Linked DNA regions of Homo sapiens. The protein of the gene in region 4 purifies or fractionates together with the protein of the main gene of each other region. This does not show direct contact. Each region holds a gene or a part of one and is shown on either strand. Other genes may lie near its edges.

What was found. The genes of interacting proteins can lie anywhere in the genome.
Region 1: the proteins of MSI2 (region 4) and PHYHIP purify together in Homo sapiens (affinity purification with mass spectrometry; one large-scale study listed by BioGRID and IntAct). This does not show direct contact.
Region 2: the proteins of MSI2 (region 4) and USP10 purify together in Homo sapiens (affinity purification with western blotting; one study listed by BioGRID). This does not show direct contact.
Region 3: the proteins of MSI2 (region 4) and FKBP1A fractionate together in Homo sapiens (co-fractionation; one large-scale study listed by BioGRID). This does not show direct contact.

What each region holds. Positions count from the first base shown.
Region 1 is NC_000008.11:22,222,100-22,225,942, reverse strand, and holds part of PHYHIP (phytanoyl-CoA hydroxylase-interacting protein), read left to right. Parts: intron 1-726; exon of another isoform or gene 727-1,501; intron 1,502-1,599; coding exon 1,600-1,717; intron 1,718-3,843. UniProt on the Homo sapiens protein: Its interaction with PHYH suggests a role in the development of the central system.
Region 2 is NC_000016.10:84,748,157-84,751,999, forward strand, and holds part of USP10 (ubiquitin carboxyl-terminal hydrolase 10), read left to right. Parts: intron 1-3,843. UniProt on the Homo sapiens protein: Hydrolase that can remove conjugated ubiquitin from target proteins such as p53/TP53, RPS2/us5, RPS3/us3, RPS10/eS10, BECN1, SNX3 and CFTR.
Region 3 is NC_000020.11:1,386,555-1,390,397, reverse strand, and holds part of FKBP1A (peptidyl-prolyl cis-trans isomerase FKBP1A), read left to right. Parts: intron 1-3,843. UniProt on the Homo sapiens protein: Keeps in an inactive conformation TGFBR1, the TGF-beta type I serine/threonine kinase receptor, preventing TGF-beta receptor activation in absence of ligand.
Region 4 is NC_000017.11:57,612,761-57,616,946, forward strand, and holds part of MSI2 (RNA-binding protein Musashi homolog 2), read left to right. Parts: intron 1-3,209; coding exon 3,210-3,324; intron 3,325-4,186.

The DNA.
Region 1 (3,843 bases), on a different chromosome or scaffold from region 4:
ATTCTCAGCCCCGGGCCTCTGAGGCTGCTGGCTCTATCCTTTGCCAAGATTTATGCCCCAAGTCTCCTTGAGCTGCTGTTGTCTTTTGAGTGGTGCTTTTTCTTTTTTTTCTCCTTCTGCCTTTTTTTTTTTTTTGAGATGGAATCTCGCTCTTGTCGCCTCCTGGCTGGAGTGCAGTGGCGTGATCTCGGCTCACTGCAATCTCCGCCTCCCGGGTTCAAGCGATTCTCCTGCCTCAGCCTCCTGAGTAGCTGGGATTACAGACGCCCACCACCATGCCTGGCTATTTTTTTTTTTTTTTTGTATTTTTAGTAGAGATGGGGTTTCACCATGTTGGCCAGGCTGATCTTGAACTCCTGACCTCAGGTGATCTGCCTGCCTTGGCCTCCCAAAGTGCTGCGATTACAGGCATAAGCCACCATCCCTGGCCTTTTTCATTTTTATTTTTTGAGACAGGGTCTTGCTCTGTTGCCCAGGTTGGAATGCAGTGGCATGATCATGGCTCACTGCAGCCTCAGCAACCTCCTCCCCACGAGCCCAAGCCATCCTCCCTCCTCAGCTTCCTGGCCTCCTGAGTAGCTGGAACTACAGGCACATGCCACCATTCCTGGCTAATTTTTGATATTTTTTTGTAGAGATGGAGTTTTTCCATGTTGGTCAGGCTAGTCTCAAACTCCTGGGCTCAAGTGATCCCAAAGTGCTGGGATCACAGGCGTGAACCACTGCTGCTGGTTGAGTGGTGTTTTTTCTTAGCTCTGCTGCAGAACCCCACTCTCTGGAGGCCTCTTGCTCCTGGTGGGGAAAGCTTCTTGGTTTACCCCTGAGACCTCCATGTGCAGTGGGCATTTAATTCAAATTGGAGATCTGGCTGCAATCCAGTCCACACTCCTCTCTCCAAACCAAGCACCCTGGCCAGGGATGCAGCCACAAAGAGGGAAGGGCATCTTCTAATTTGTACCAAGGAGCTGTATGTGCCAGCAGCAGCCTTGCTGGGGCCCCAGGGTTCAATGTTGCTATCCTGTTTCCAGCCTTCCCTGTTTCTCCTGAGATGCTCAAGCTGAGAGCCATTGCTCCAGACCCAGGACTGCCTAAACATTGCCTGGGCTCAGTTCTCCCTAGACCCTCACGAGCCGTCACCTGTAATTACAGCTGGCTTCCATGGGGGTGGTGTGGGCAGCCTCCTATCTACTGTATTTGAGAGACTTTCCCAAAAGGACCTCAAGCCCTCCCGTCTCAAGTCTTCCTTTTTCCCAGGGGTCCTCTTTTCACATGAGGATGGCCTGGGATCACAGCCCCTGAGGACCCTGGCAGGATAACTGGGCAGCCCTCTGCCTTTTTCTGACCCGGAGAGCCCGGAGCCTCTGGCAATGTGGTTGCAGAGGTGATGACGACAGACAGTATGCAGCGCTCTGTGTTTCCAGCAGAGGCCAGCTGGCCTGTTCCCATCTGAGTTTAAGGTTCTGCGACTGTCTAGTCTCCCCTGCTGCTCTGGCGGACAGAGGTTGGCCGGCACACACAGTGTGGGGTGGGGTGGGGACAGGAGGTGTTTGTGCTCCTCAGCTGGCCCTCGGCTCACCTACCGCATCTGGGATCTTGCAGATTATGCCAAGGAGCACCTGGCTCAGCTTCAGGAGAAAGCTGAGCAGATCGCAGGCCGCATGCTCCGCTTCTCCGTCTTCTACCGCAACCATCACAAGGAGTACTTCCAGCATGCCAGGTATGGGCGCGGGCTCCCGGCTGGACCCGCCGGGCCTCTCCTCCCTCCCAGCCCTTCCTGCTCCTGTCCTGGCTGTCTGAGGTCACCCCCACCCTCGTGGCTGCCAGTCCCTCCTCTAGGGTTGACATGTCCTGACGTCACCAGGCTGGCTCTGAAGAGACTGCTACTTTGGGGATTGGGCTCAGGGAAGATCAAGGGCTCTGGGGACAGGGCCTTCTGCAAGAGTGTTGTACTAATGAGCCTGGGAGAATGAGGTCTGGGTTTGCTCCCACTCTGGGACAGTTCCTTTCACAGGGGTCTACCACCACAGGTCTCTCCGATTCAGGCCCTGGGGCCAAAGGGAAGGTGGCAGGGAGTGCACAAAATGAGTGTTCTGATCACAAAGGGTTCGAGGAAGCACCCAGCTCGTCGGTTTTCAAACTGGGTGCTCCCTCCAGGGAGACATGTCAGTGAACCCCTTAGAATGCTGCCATGGGGTTGGGGGGACCAGAGGTTGAGGCTTGGTGGGCCCCACACCTGACCTCCAGTCAGAGTAGCCTCAATTTTATTTGCCTGTGACCCTTCCACGTATAATTTCTTTTGGGGATAAAAAGAGAGTTGCTGCAGTCCAAAAGTGTTTGAAAATTGGTGATCTGATCCAACACCCTCAGCCTACAGAAGAGGAGCCTGAGGCCCAGAGGGAAGCACTTGTTCATTCGAGCCAGGGAGTCACTTGTTACTGAGGACAGCCAGGACCAGGCAATGTGAGGCAGGACCAGGAGTACCCACCATCCCCGGGCCTGCTGGCAAGTGCTCCAAGGCCGCATCCTTCTGAGGCTCAGCCAGGGCAAGCAGCTGCTCTGCCTTTTTTTTTTTTTTTTTTTTTGAGATGGCGTCTTCTCTGTCACCCAGGCTGGAGTGCAGGGGCGCGATCTCTGCTCACTACAACCTCTGCCTTCTGGGTTAAAATGATTCTCCTGCCTCAGCCTCTTGAGTAGCTGGGACCACAGGTATGCGCCACCATGCCCGGCTAATTTTTGTATTTTTAATGAAGTGGGGTTTCACCATGTTGGCCAGGCTGGTCTCAAACTCCTGACCTCAGGTGATCCGCCCACCTCGGCCTCCCAAGGTCCTGGGATTACAGGCATGAGCCACCACGCCCGGCCTCTGTCTGTCTTTATCCTTACAGTCAGGGCAGTTTTAACCTCAGGGCAGTGAGGACCTTGGGAGTCTTTGGGGTTTGTATTAAAGAAGCAAGGCCTGCTTGGTGGCTCAAGCCTGTAATCCTACCACGTTGGGAGGCCGAGATGGGATCTCTTGACCCCAAGAGTTCAAGACTAGCCTGAGCAACATAGTGAGACCCCAGCCTCTGCAAAAAATTTAAAGAATTAGCCGGGTGTGGATTGCTTGAGCCCAGGAGTTCGAGCTTGCAGTGAGCTGTGATTGCACCACTGCACTCCAGCCTGGAAAGCAAGTCAGTGGCCCAGTTTGGGCTCCTTTATCAGCGAGAGTGGGAGAGATAGAGAGCACTCATGGGTGCCAGGCACCTTACTTGGTGCCAGGATGTAAAGATAAAGGCACAGTTCACTCTTTTGAGAACCTCAGAATCCAGTCAGAGAGACAGTATGGAAAGATTTCATGTAAAAAGTACGTGTAATTGTTGAGCACAGTTCAGTGTCCTGGCCAGGTGAAGTGGCTCACACCTGCAATCCTAGCACTTTGGGAGGCTGAAGCAGGAGGATCACTTGAGGCCAGGAGTTCAAGTCCAGCCTGGGCAACATAGTGAGAAGATTGGGTGTCCTGCACATAGTAGGAAGCCAAAAATTTGTCAAGTGCAGGTGTCTGCTGTTCCTGGGAGGTTTTAGAGGGGAGCAGACGCTTGACTGAAGCTTGAAGGCTAATTAGAAGTTTGCCAAGCCAGACGGAGGAAGGTGGAGAGGGCAGTCAGTGCAGCAGAGGGAAGAGTCCTGCATAGGGGTCACGGAGGCAGGAGACTGTGTGTGCAGGGGGTGGGTAAGTGGATGGGGTGGCAGGAGGTGGGGAGTGGCAAGGAGACCACAGAGATCAGATCATGAGCCGCCGTGTTTTTCACACACACCCCATCAAAGGGTTTCAAGCTGGGGAGTGACAGCTTCATATCTCTTCTC
Region 2 (3,843 bases), on a different chromosome or scaffold from region 4:
AAAAAAAAAAAAAAAAAAAAAGATAGATTGTGTAAGCCTTTATATAGATTACTAAGTTAAAAGTTTATTTTTAACCTATAATGAGAAATGCATGGTGGGGTCCTGTTAAAAATGTGCATTCTAAGTTCGAAGTCATGAGAATTTTATTTTCTTTTCTTTATTTTTGAGAGGGGGTCTCACTCTGTCGCCCAGGCCGGAATGCAGTGGCGCAATCTCGGCTCACTGCAACCTTCTCCTCCTGGGTTCAGGCAATTCTCCTGCCTCAGCCTCCCTAGTAGCTGGGACTACAGGTGCCTGGCACCACGCCAGGCTAATTTTTGTATTTTTAGTAGAGACCGAGTTTCACCATGTTGGCCAGGCTGGTCTTGAGCTCCTGACCTCAAGTGATCCTCCTGCCTCAGCCTCTCAAAGTGCTGAGATTACAGGCGTGAGCCACCGCGCCCAGCTGAGAATATTATAGTTTCGTTTCTAAAATTGCTCCACAAAGGAAAACCTCCCATCTTAGGGAGATTTTCTCTATCTTTATTTAAAATAACCAAGAAAAGCTTCATTTAAAATGTTTTAGAACATTCTACTTAGTCATATGACTTTAAATATAGTTTGATAAATAGTTTGTTATGTTCTGTATATGTTAAAGTCTAATTGAAGTAGCTTTGTCAAACACTGAAAGTAAGGGCCTCTTAATGACTGGTAGTAGAGGAAAGCCTTGCCACACACAGTCCACGTAATTATTTTTGTGTGGACATATTGTAAACCCCTACCAAACAGATTATTTTTTTAATCCTATTTGGTTAGGTCAGTTATGAAGATGTTTTAATTTTCTGAGCAAAAGTGTAGTTTCTTTAAAAATATATAATTCTTTTCAGCCTGTTTGTTGAGGCTTCGATAGACAGAACGTAGTTGTTGACAGTTTCAGGAGTCTCGTGAGATAGTAGAGCAATAGAGTCACATTGAATAACCCTTGGGATCATATAGGGCTTAGGGAGAATGGCATTGTTTGAAATTTTTTTTGTTGTTTTATTCTCCTACTTAGGGATTTACTTTATAAAAGTGGTAAAACATACTCAGTTTGTTACAAGTCAGATCCACTACCACAAATTCCCTTTAGTGGGCACACTTTTAAGTGTAGGCCCACTTATTTTAAGCAGCGTTTAACTGAGTGAAAGTCTAGTTTCATTAAAAGATCTGTTGATGTGGGTTATAATAGAGTTTGACTTGCATTAGTATCTAACTGTTTCTACTGAGACAGTGGTATTTGTGTTATTAACTTTTGGGAAAGAGGGAGTAGGGAATGATTTAGACATTAAATGTATTCCTTTCTGCCAGGCATGATAGTGTGGAGATTGAGGCTTGAGGCTCGATAACTTGAGCCCGGGAGTTCGAGGCCAGCCTGGGCAACATACTGAGACCCCATCTTTAAAAAAAAAAAAAATTATACACACACAAAATGCTTGGAATAATTTGTGTATTTTTTATCTCAAGTTTGTTTCAAATACTCACATTTCTGGACTATTTCCCCTATTGTTAAGTCTGCTTAATAAATGCCAGCTAGTTTTTATGCCATCAGAAGTGAAATTAAGAAGGCAGATGGACTAAAAGAATCACGTATAAGGGATTTTGAAGTGAAATACATTAAACTCTTGATTACTCTTAAACTATCCACTTTAACGGGTTCTACTTGGACCTTCTTGGTGGCAAGGCCATCTCCTCGGTGTAGGTTATGTGTCAACATTTTGTTCCATTGGCTGTTTTTCAAGTGTGAACTGTTATTTGAAAGGAGAAGGACACGCCAGGGGAGAGCGTGTGAACTGAATACTCAGTGATTTCCTTTAGCCCCAAGGGAAGGATGTATCTAAACACAAAAGCCCTGTCTTGCCGAGGGTTGGAGAGGGATCTGTGTTTCAGTGACTGGTCTGAGAGGAGATGGTTGCCATTTATCAGTAGGAGTCAACAAAAGGAAACTTAATACAGCCCGGCACAGTGGCTCACGCCTGTAATCCCAGCACTTTCGGAGGTTGAGGTGGGTGGATCCCTTGAGGCCAGGAGTTCAAGACCAGCCTGGCCAACATAGGGAAATCCCATCTTTACTAAAAATAAAAAAATTAGATGGACGTGGTGGCTCATGGCTGTAATCCTAGCTACTGAGGAGGCTGTGTCAGGAGAATAGCTTGAACCGGGGAGGTGGAGGTTCAGTGAGCCCAGATCGTGCCACTGCACTCCAGCCTGGGCCACAGAGTGAGACTGTCTCAAAAAAAAAAAAAAAAACCCAAAACTTAATAGCTTGTGTTTGAAAGTAGTTGCAAAACGCGACACCCTTGTTAAGAGTGAGTATGGCAGACACGTGGGGAGTGCCTTTGCTGCTGCTTCCCTCATTAGCACAGATACTTTGGAGTTGACGAACATGTGACGTTTGAAATTGAACGTATGCTTTCATTGAACATTGTACTTTTCCTGGGTCTTTACTAAGGAACATTCCTCATATACTAGACGAAATTGTATCAGATGCTTTCACATCACAAATAGAGCCATTTTGTATTTGATGTTTTGCTTTCAAAATTATGCAACAGTATATTTTGTTTTAACAGAATATAAATAATGCTGGGTAAGAAGAGTGGCCAACTGCCCGATAAGTTAAAATTCCAGTGAGAGAGAACTAGGAAAACTGAGCTCTTGAACAGCTCTGAAAACATTGCGTTGAGGTATCTAGCAATGTCATTTATTATGAATTGTTAGTCAAAACCTGTTTATATGATTTTTCACAGTGGTTTTATACCTAAAAGGCATTGGATCAAGAAACAAAGTTATTACAATTTGGGTCTTCTCTAATGAATTACCCTGTCCGTGTTTATTTAAGTGTAAATGAACATACAGTTATGTGCTGCTTTAATGATGTTTCAGTCAACAACAGACCGCATGTACGACAGTGGTCCCATAAGATTATAATGGAGCTAAACAATTTCTAGTGACCAGTGAGTTGTGTTACAGTTGCCTACGGTATTCAGTACACAACATGCTGTACGGGTTTGTAGCTTAGGAGCAATAGGCTCTAGCATATGGCCCAGGTGTGTAGTTGGCTATACCATCTAGGCATGTGATCCCACAATGACAAAATTGCCTAATGCCACATTTCTCAGAACATATCCCCATCATTAAGCATGGCTGTGTATCCTAAAACTGATCTTTATTTTGGCAGTTTATAAATCATGCATATATTTCCCCCCGCTCCTTGGGGGAAATGGTTTCTCAGATATTTTGCACTTCCTCTTCAAACTCTGAAGTACACAGGCAGTGGTCATGCGGCGTGATCTAAGTTAAAAAGGCGTGGCACCTGTTTACCGGGATCCACCCTTGTGGACTGAGAGTTTAGTCCACATCTGATTCGATGTTTGTAGCCTCACATTTATTATACATCTTTCCACTTCAGAAACATAAGTTGATCTGTAGTCAATGGGTAGTGGTACATTTTGGTCACTTTGCTGTCCTCCACCTGGTTAGATAACCAAGATAGTGTGTGTTCTTCCAAATTGATGGTAATGAGGAAAAGAAAAGCACTTGGAGAATGTTCTGGACAGTTAGAATGATGACAGAAAAGCAGGTCAACAACACCAGAATGTCGATTACGGGCCAGTTATTGAGCCCTAAGAATCAGAGTTCTGTACCTTGCATTTTCAGGGATTTTCAATGTTAATATGACCCCTAAGTCCTAATTTTAGGAAAACAGAATTTGATGTGTAAAATATGTGTAAGAATAATCATAGCTTATGATGACATAAAAGTTTACGATGCTGGTATTGCCTTTGAGTTGATAAACAATTTCAGTGGGCTGATTTGTGGCAGCCCTTG
Region 3 (3,843 bases), on a different chromosome or scaffold from region 4:
TGGAAGTCCCCTGCATGCTCCCCCGTCCCCCCTCCCCCCTCCCCCCTCCCCATGGCCAGCTTCTCTGTCTTCTTTTGAGTATCTGGCTCAGATTTCTTGGCTGTGATTCTGATTGTTACTTCTCTGAGAAGGAGAGTTTGAGTAAGGTGAACACTCTTGATCCAGTCAGCTCTTGCCAGGTGTCCACTCAGCTGATTTGGGCACGGGTCCAGAGAAAGAGGGGTGGAAGTAAGGTGGCCAAAATCTCCCCTTAGCCATCACAGGTGTGCAGAGCACAGACTGACCTTTACCACATGGATGCTTTAAATGCCACTAATGGCTGTCAGTCACCTTGATGTCACTCTCAAGGGTCCCTCTGGTGACTTCCGTGACCTTCTGGCAGAGCACAGCATGAGCAAGGCCTCAAAGGAATGCCTGCACTACCTCTGTGGTACCAGAGGGAAAATACAAAGTTCACTATCACCAGCTAAGCATCTCCTAGGAGCATGACAGGCATTGAGGTGGGAGGGAGGTGGTGGAAAGGTAAGCTGCCAAGTAAGTGCCTTTAGGAGCCAGGGAATTCTCATGGCGCCTCCCTGCTGCCTCCAGTAGCTTCGTCATCTTTACTGTTAGCTTGTCCTGGCACACAGCTAGGTTTAGACCTCTTTTACTTACTTCAGCAGGCCGTGTGCCTGCCATTGTGAGAGCAGCCCCAAGGGGATTGAAGGAATGTTTTCTTTTTTCTTCTTAAAAAGTAACTAACTGGACATTTTGTCCTTGGGATCAGGTTTAAGTCAGGTATAGCCTCCCGGTTTCTGACTGAGAAAAACCAGGAGCCCCTCAACCTCATGTCCTCAGGAGGTTGACTGGGAAGGCTGCTGAGGCTCCCGGGACAGGTGTGGCCACTTTGCTGCAGCCTCCCTCAAGCCCCTTGCTTTTCCTTAGCTTTGTTCCCCCCTCTCCTCTGCTTTATTCCATCCACTCCCTTGCTAGGTATCTCTTGGTTGGTGATCTGATGTCTGGAGGGAGGCTCACCCTCAGCAGAGATGCCTCAGATGGCTTCCCCTGACGTGTGCTGTCTTGAGGCACACAGGCTGTAACTGTTGGGCAGGGCTGCAACAAGTCCCTTTGCCTTCCCACAGCAGATGTTTTTTGAGCAACAGCAGCAAGCCAGGCTCTAGGGACATGGCTAGTGAACTAAATAGACAAAGACCTGATCTGGTGGGGCTTTGCTTATGATGAGGAGACTGATAGTATGGCCATGGAGCACATCAGGTAGTAAGAAGCGCTGGAGAGATTAAAGCAGAGTGAGGGATGGGAAGGGAAGTTGGCTGCTTTTCGTGAGGGTGATTGGAAAAGGCCTCTGAAAAAAATGGCATTTTAACATTCACTCAAAGGACATTGGAGAGGGAGCTACAGGGCTGTCTAGAGTATCCAGGCAGAGGGAAGAGCTAGTGCAGGACCCTGAGGCTGGAGCCTGCTCGGTGCATTAGAGGAACAGTAAGAAGACCGGTGCGTTAGAGGAACAGGAAGTGGATTGTGTGAAAGGGTATGTGGCAGGAGATGAGGGGATGGTGGAGCCTCGTTGGTTTTTATAAAAACGTTGCCTTTTTCTAACTCAGGTGAGAGCCACTGGCTGGCTTGGCTTTTAATGCCCGCCCCCGCCCCCCCAACCCACGCTCCTTCTGGCTACTGTGTGGACAATGGGCTTTTGGGGGCAAAGGCAGAAACAGGACACTGGTTGTATCCCAGGTGTGTGGAGTGCCAGCTCAGGCAGTGGGCAGAAGTGGTGCCAGGTGGACAGTGATCCCCAAAGAGCATGTGGGTTCTTCGCTGTGTTCTGATCTTGACCCTGCCATACAACGGGCTATGAGAGCTTGAACAAATTGTCCCACAGTTCCCAGCTTCCACATGCTGTCTATAAAATGGGAGTAACGATGCCTGCTGTGAAGCAAATGCCTATCGAGACTACCCAGTTGTCTCCAAAGTGTTGCTCTTTTTTAAAACCACAGTTCCATTGAGCCTCACTCATCGCAGTTGTTATGTCTGTAATCTCAGTCTAGAAGAGTCCTTACGCTGTTTTTTTCTTAATAACTCTGATTTCTTCAAAGAGAGCAGGCTAGTTATAGAATACTCCACATCTGTCTTACTGTTTTCTCATGGTATTGTTTAACTTGTTCCCTGCCTTGATTTTCTGAACCGGATGTTTAATCTTTTAAGTGTCTGAATAGATTCCGTTTAAACATTTTAGTGTGAGTACTTCATCCTCAGCACACATGGGAAACATCACTAGTTGTGATGCTAAATTTGATCTTTTCTGTAAAGGTACATTTTTCCCTTTGCATTTAGCAGTGATCTGTGGAGTGCTTAGGTAGCCATAGATGGTCTCTTGCTCATCAGCCTTTCACCTAGTGGTGTTTACACCATCTGATCATTCTCCCCTGAAGAAGTCACTGGCATTCACAAAGTGTTGATTTTTAAAATTCCTTCATTCTTTCTAAATTTATTAGCTGTTATCCTTCTATAAGATAAGGTAAAGTAATTCTTTACCTTTAAATACCAAATTTTATTTTTATTTTTTGAGACAGTGTCTCTGTCACTCAGGCTGGAGTGCAGTGGCTTGATCATGGCTCACTGTAGCCTCGACCTCCCAGACTCCCATCCCGGCCTCCCATCCGGCCTTCTGAATAGTTGGGCATACAGGTGCATGCCACCTGTCCTAATTTTTGTATTTTTTGTAGAGACGGGTTTCGCCAGGTTTCCCAGGCTAGTCTCAAACTCCTGGCCTCAAGTGATCCACCCTCCTTAGCCTCCCAAAGTGCTGGTAGTACAGGCATGAGCCACCGTGCCCAGCCTTTAATTACCAATTTTTAAAATGAAAAATGAATGTTAACTGATGGGGTATTGCCATTCCCAGTGGGGGCAAGTGACTTTTTCCCCCTCTATTTGCTTTGACTGTACTGTGGGCTGAAATTTTTTGTCAGGGCCTTAAGATCAATGATACCCATTATTCTTTTTGATGCTAATATCATCCTAAATTTGGCCAGTAGGAGCCCTTTAAGCTGGCTCCAGTACCTTTTTGACAGGCTCCCACCATTCCTTCATCCATTTCTCGGTTTCACTACTCTGGTCCAATTATCAGCCATCTTTCAAAGAGCTCTGGTTCCTTTCAGTGGGGTCCATGACCTTTTTTTTTCTTGGTAACAGCTTTATTGAATATAATTTACATACCATAAATTCACCTATTTACTCATAGATGTTTTAACTAGAACATTTTTAGGCTTAAACTGATTTTTATGAATTACTGAGGGGTTTATTGTATCCATAAACTGGAAATCATTTGTCTGCCTTGGAATTTTCTCTAAAAATATTGTCACCTGCTGTTTCCCATGGAAGAAGCCAAGGTTATGAATAACTTAATCACATAGCATTCAGTTCTCCCTTTGGTGCTCATGGTGACATTTGTTTATTTTTACTTCTATTTTTTCTTCTGTTTTTTTGTTTTCTTTTCCTGCTAAAAAGCTTAACCAAGTCTCTGCATTCCCTCCCCTGGACCCCTTTGATTTTGACCAGGTGTATTCTAGCAGTGCAGAAAGTCGGGGAGGTAGAAATAACCAGTTCTTAGATGCTACTGTCTCTTTCTGTTACATTTGCTCTTCCTCTCCCAGGAGCTCAAGCCACCTTGGCCTGCATTCATTCCTCGAATGCTCCAAGCCTTTTCCCACATGGAGGTCTCTGCCCCTTTGCTTAGGTGCCACCACACTGCCCCCACTCCCCACTGCATGACAGGCTCTTTTCTTTATAGCACAGCTTAAGTAACACTTTGGATGCATACATGCATGCTTCTAATTCTGCAACAATGCA
Region 4 (4,186 bases):
GATTTCCGTTGATCGGGTTGCCTAGGAACAGGCAGCAGGTTTTCATAAGACAATGCAGTAGATTGTCACCGATAGGGCTATTAGGAAGTGAGCTGGTTAGCGGTATTATTCCCCTTGCTGGTGTTGGCTTTGGGTAATTATCTGTCTGCCTGTGCGAGACACGCCCATCTTCCTAGGCTTGGGGCAGGTTCATGCAAATGAGATTTCTCAGCCTGCTCCTCTGGAGTCCTGAAGCCAGTTTTCACCCCTGGGCTTAGGAGAGAAACCTAAAAGAGCCAATTTGGATGAGTTTGTTGTTTTCAATCACCTTTCCCCCCTACCTGCAATGACAATATTCTAATAGCCCTATCAGTGACAGTCTATTGCATTATCTTACAAAAACCTGCTCCCTGTTGCTTAGCAGAAAGCTTAGAAAATAACTAGCAAAATGCCCAATTAAAATTTAAAAACAGAGTGATTCTAAGACAACTTTAGTATGTCTTTTCAGTATTTTTCCCTATATGATATATGCACTTGTTTATTTTTCAAAAAGTCAGTGACATTTGCTGTTTTCCCGCTTGCAGTTAAAGAAACCCATCATCCTGGTTTGCCTGGGACTGAGGGGTTTCCCAGTACCAGTGCATGATTATTATCAACACACTTTTTCATAGCTGCATAGCATTCAATCAGTGTGGATAATCCAAACTCAGCTAATTCCCTGTTCTTCTATATTTTAGGTATTTCCTTTTATTAAAAAAAAAAATTCTAATTCCGGTAGGGCAAATTCCTAGAGGTAAGATTACTAGGTGTATGTATAAATTTATGGCTTTTGATGTAGTGTCTGGTTGCCCTCCAGAAAAATACGTGCCAATTTCCACCCCTCCACACTATACCGTCAGAAACCCTTACATCAAACAATGCTTTCATCACTGTCAATCTGTGGGCAAAAAATATGCTTCATCTTGGGGAATGTGTTCTTTATTAGCCGTCTGTGAATTGTCTACTCCTGTCTTTTACCCATGTCTGTTTTGGGATGCTCATCTCTTTTAATCTATAGAACTCTGTATTAAGCATATTAGTCATGAATGTTGAACCATTTTGTCCACTTTTTAAGGCATTTGTGGTTATTCTTGAAAGAGCAAGAGTAATACCTGTTGTCCGGTGTCTTTGAAGAAAGGTGACTTATATCTTAGGTAATTATAGCATCCCCCTAACCTTGAGCACTAAAATATTTTTTGATTGAAGTATTTGGGATGTGAGTATCTCCAAAATGGATAACCCATAGAGGTTCCTTTTTTATTTTCGTTTTATTTATTTTTTTTATTTTTTGAGATAGAGTCTCGCTCTGTCGCCCAGGCTGGAGTACAGTGGTGCGATCTCGGCTCACTACACCCTCCACCTCCCGGGTTCAAGCGATTCTTCTGCCTTAGCCTCCCAAGTAGCTGGGATTACAGGAGCATGCCACCACACCTGGCTAATTTTTTTGTATTTTTAGTAGAGACAGGGTTTTGCCACGATAGCCAGGCTGGTCTCGAACTCCTGGACTCAAGCAGTCTGCCTGCCTTAGCCTCCCAAAGTGTTGGGATTACAGGTGTGAGCCACCACGTCCGGCCTAGAGGTCTCTGTTTAAACAATGTATATTGCACACAGTTTAACTTTTTCTTGCTATCTCAGGCACACCTGTGAACAATAGCAATTTTCTGTGTTACAGTGATACCTCAGCAGCTGTTGAACTATGTAGAGCTTTTGTTCCTATACCATATGGCCCAGACTGCTCTTTAAATAAGATACCTGTTTCTTGTCTTTTCTCCGTCATTTAAATAAGATACCTGTTTCTTGTCTTTTCTCCGTCACTATCAGGCGGCCATGCTGTTTCTTTTGGCTGTTAAAAGCATCCGTGCCTTACCCTGCAACATCCCATCTTCATCAGCAGTGGGATTGATGACTGGCTAACAATGCTTGTTAAATTTCTCTGTAAACAAAAAGCAAATAAGTGCTAATAAGCACAGGCCTAAGGCGCTCTGGTAAAACAGTGAAGGAGCTTCCGAGGGCCACAGTTTTACTTATTCCCTGAGGTTTATAGTTCGCATAGTTAAGGTTATTAAATAAGTGACCTCTGGGTATACAAGCAGATTAGCATGAAGAAATTTGAGAGTCAGAAGGGAAACAGAAAGGGGAGATTAGCAACCACTTGAAAATGTAGCTGCAAATGAGAAACTAGTAATCCAGATGAACAGAATCAGTGTTTAATCTTATTACTTCCCTCAGGAGTGTGGTGGTGGTGTAGGTTTTGTGGAAATGTGGCATTGCTGACCTAGAAATTCTAAAGATCTGGTTTGTAGGCCTGAACCTGTTGGGGAGGGCTTTCAGCATGTTGCACAAGAATTTTTTTTTTTTTTTTTTTTTAAGACAGGGTCTCGCTGTGTCACCCAGGCTGGAGTGCAGTGGCGTGATCATGGCTCACTGCAGCCTTGACCTCCCAGACTCAGGTGATCCCCCTACCTCAGCCTCCCAGGTAGCTGGGACTACAGGTGTGTGCCACCACACCTGCCTAGTTTTTTGTATTTTTTTAGTACAGACGGGGTTTCACCATGTTGCCAGGCTGATCTGAAACGCCTGGGCTCAAGCTGATTCACCTGCCTCCACCTCCCACAGTGCTGGGATTACAAACATGATCCCCCACGCCCAGCCAACACAAAACTTCTGATGCTCTGTTTTCTCATCTGTGAACTGGAGCTAAGGCTAAGTGGTCTGTCTGTTTAATAAGAGTTTGAATCAGATGGCCTGGCATGAAGAGTCACTGGCCTGAGAGAATGTCAGGGGCATTTGTAAATGTGTAAAGGGCTGAAAAATCCTGAGGGATTATTATTATTGCTATTGTTGTTATTATTCACAGACACATCCAACAGCCATTGTCTGCCTCCTTATCTGTCATGCTTTCTGCACGAGCGTCAGCCTGAGCTTCAATCTGTGTGTATATCTGCAGCTTACGTCCTTGCCACCCCTCCAGAACCCAGTTTCATCCTTGTAGGTTTTTCCGAAGCAGGATTTGCACAAGTGGCGTGTTTTCTTAAGTATTTATTTTGCAGGCCATTTACTCGGCATGGCTATTTTTACAGTGGGTAAGGAGCAAGGCTAAAAATAACTTAGCTCATAACCAGACAGGTTCTGCATTTGACATTTACGTGGAATTCATTTGCATCTCATTTGTTCGCCTTTCTGTTTAACAGGTAGAATGTAAGAAAGCTCAGCCGAAAGAAGTCATGTTCCCACCTGGGACAAGAGGCCGGGCCCGGGGACTGCCTTACACCATGGACGCGTTCATGCTTGGCATGGGGATGCTGGGTGAGTCTGGACAGGACCGCAGGTCACCATGGACTGGGAGGGCTATGGAGGCCTCTACTCCCAACTGGGTCACCTACCAGTGGGGCAAACTGCTTCACCTTTCTAAGCCTCAGTTTCCTTGTCTGTAGATGAGGATGATAATTCCCCGTTCCAAGACAGTTGTGATGATTAAGTGTGGGTGTGTGTGTGTGCATGCATGTGTGTGTGTGTGTGTGTGTGTTTGTATTTATAATATTGCCCCATGCCTGGCTTATAGGATATGTTAGACTATTTTCTCTCTTTTCCATCTCCTTCCTCAAAAGAAGGAAAAGTCCCCCTCTATCTGCCTCAGCCCTCTCATCTGAGTGGGAGTTCTTAAGATGTAAGGACTCCTGGCTGACTTGACTTGTGTGGGCTAAGGCTACGTTTTCTAAAACTTGGGAGAGGAGGGAAGTGGTAAGGGTGGGCGATAATCCTGTCTATTTAAATGATTAACATTTTTCTCTTGGGATATCAAAATTTGCATTTAAATGGATGTTTTAAATAGCCTGTTTTACTCTTTATTTGCCAAAAAAAAAAAAAAGATGAAAGACAAAGTGTGTTTGTTCTGACTAAAAATGATTTCTCCTGGCTTTTAGAGAAATTGAGTTGCATATTATGTCCCTTTCCTTAAAAGTATCTCTGTCCGTCCTGCGTAGATAATTGAAAATCTTACCGCTTAAATGGCATGAAAGATGGAGAAAGCAGTGGAGATGCGTAATGGTGTAGGTCGCAACAATAATTAGAAATTTAAAGGCGAGAGAATGGTATTTTAGTGCAAGTTATTGTGTGTCAGGAAAATACTAATTAAGTGGGATAAATGGTAGTTAATGGTAAAATTCCA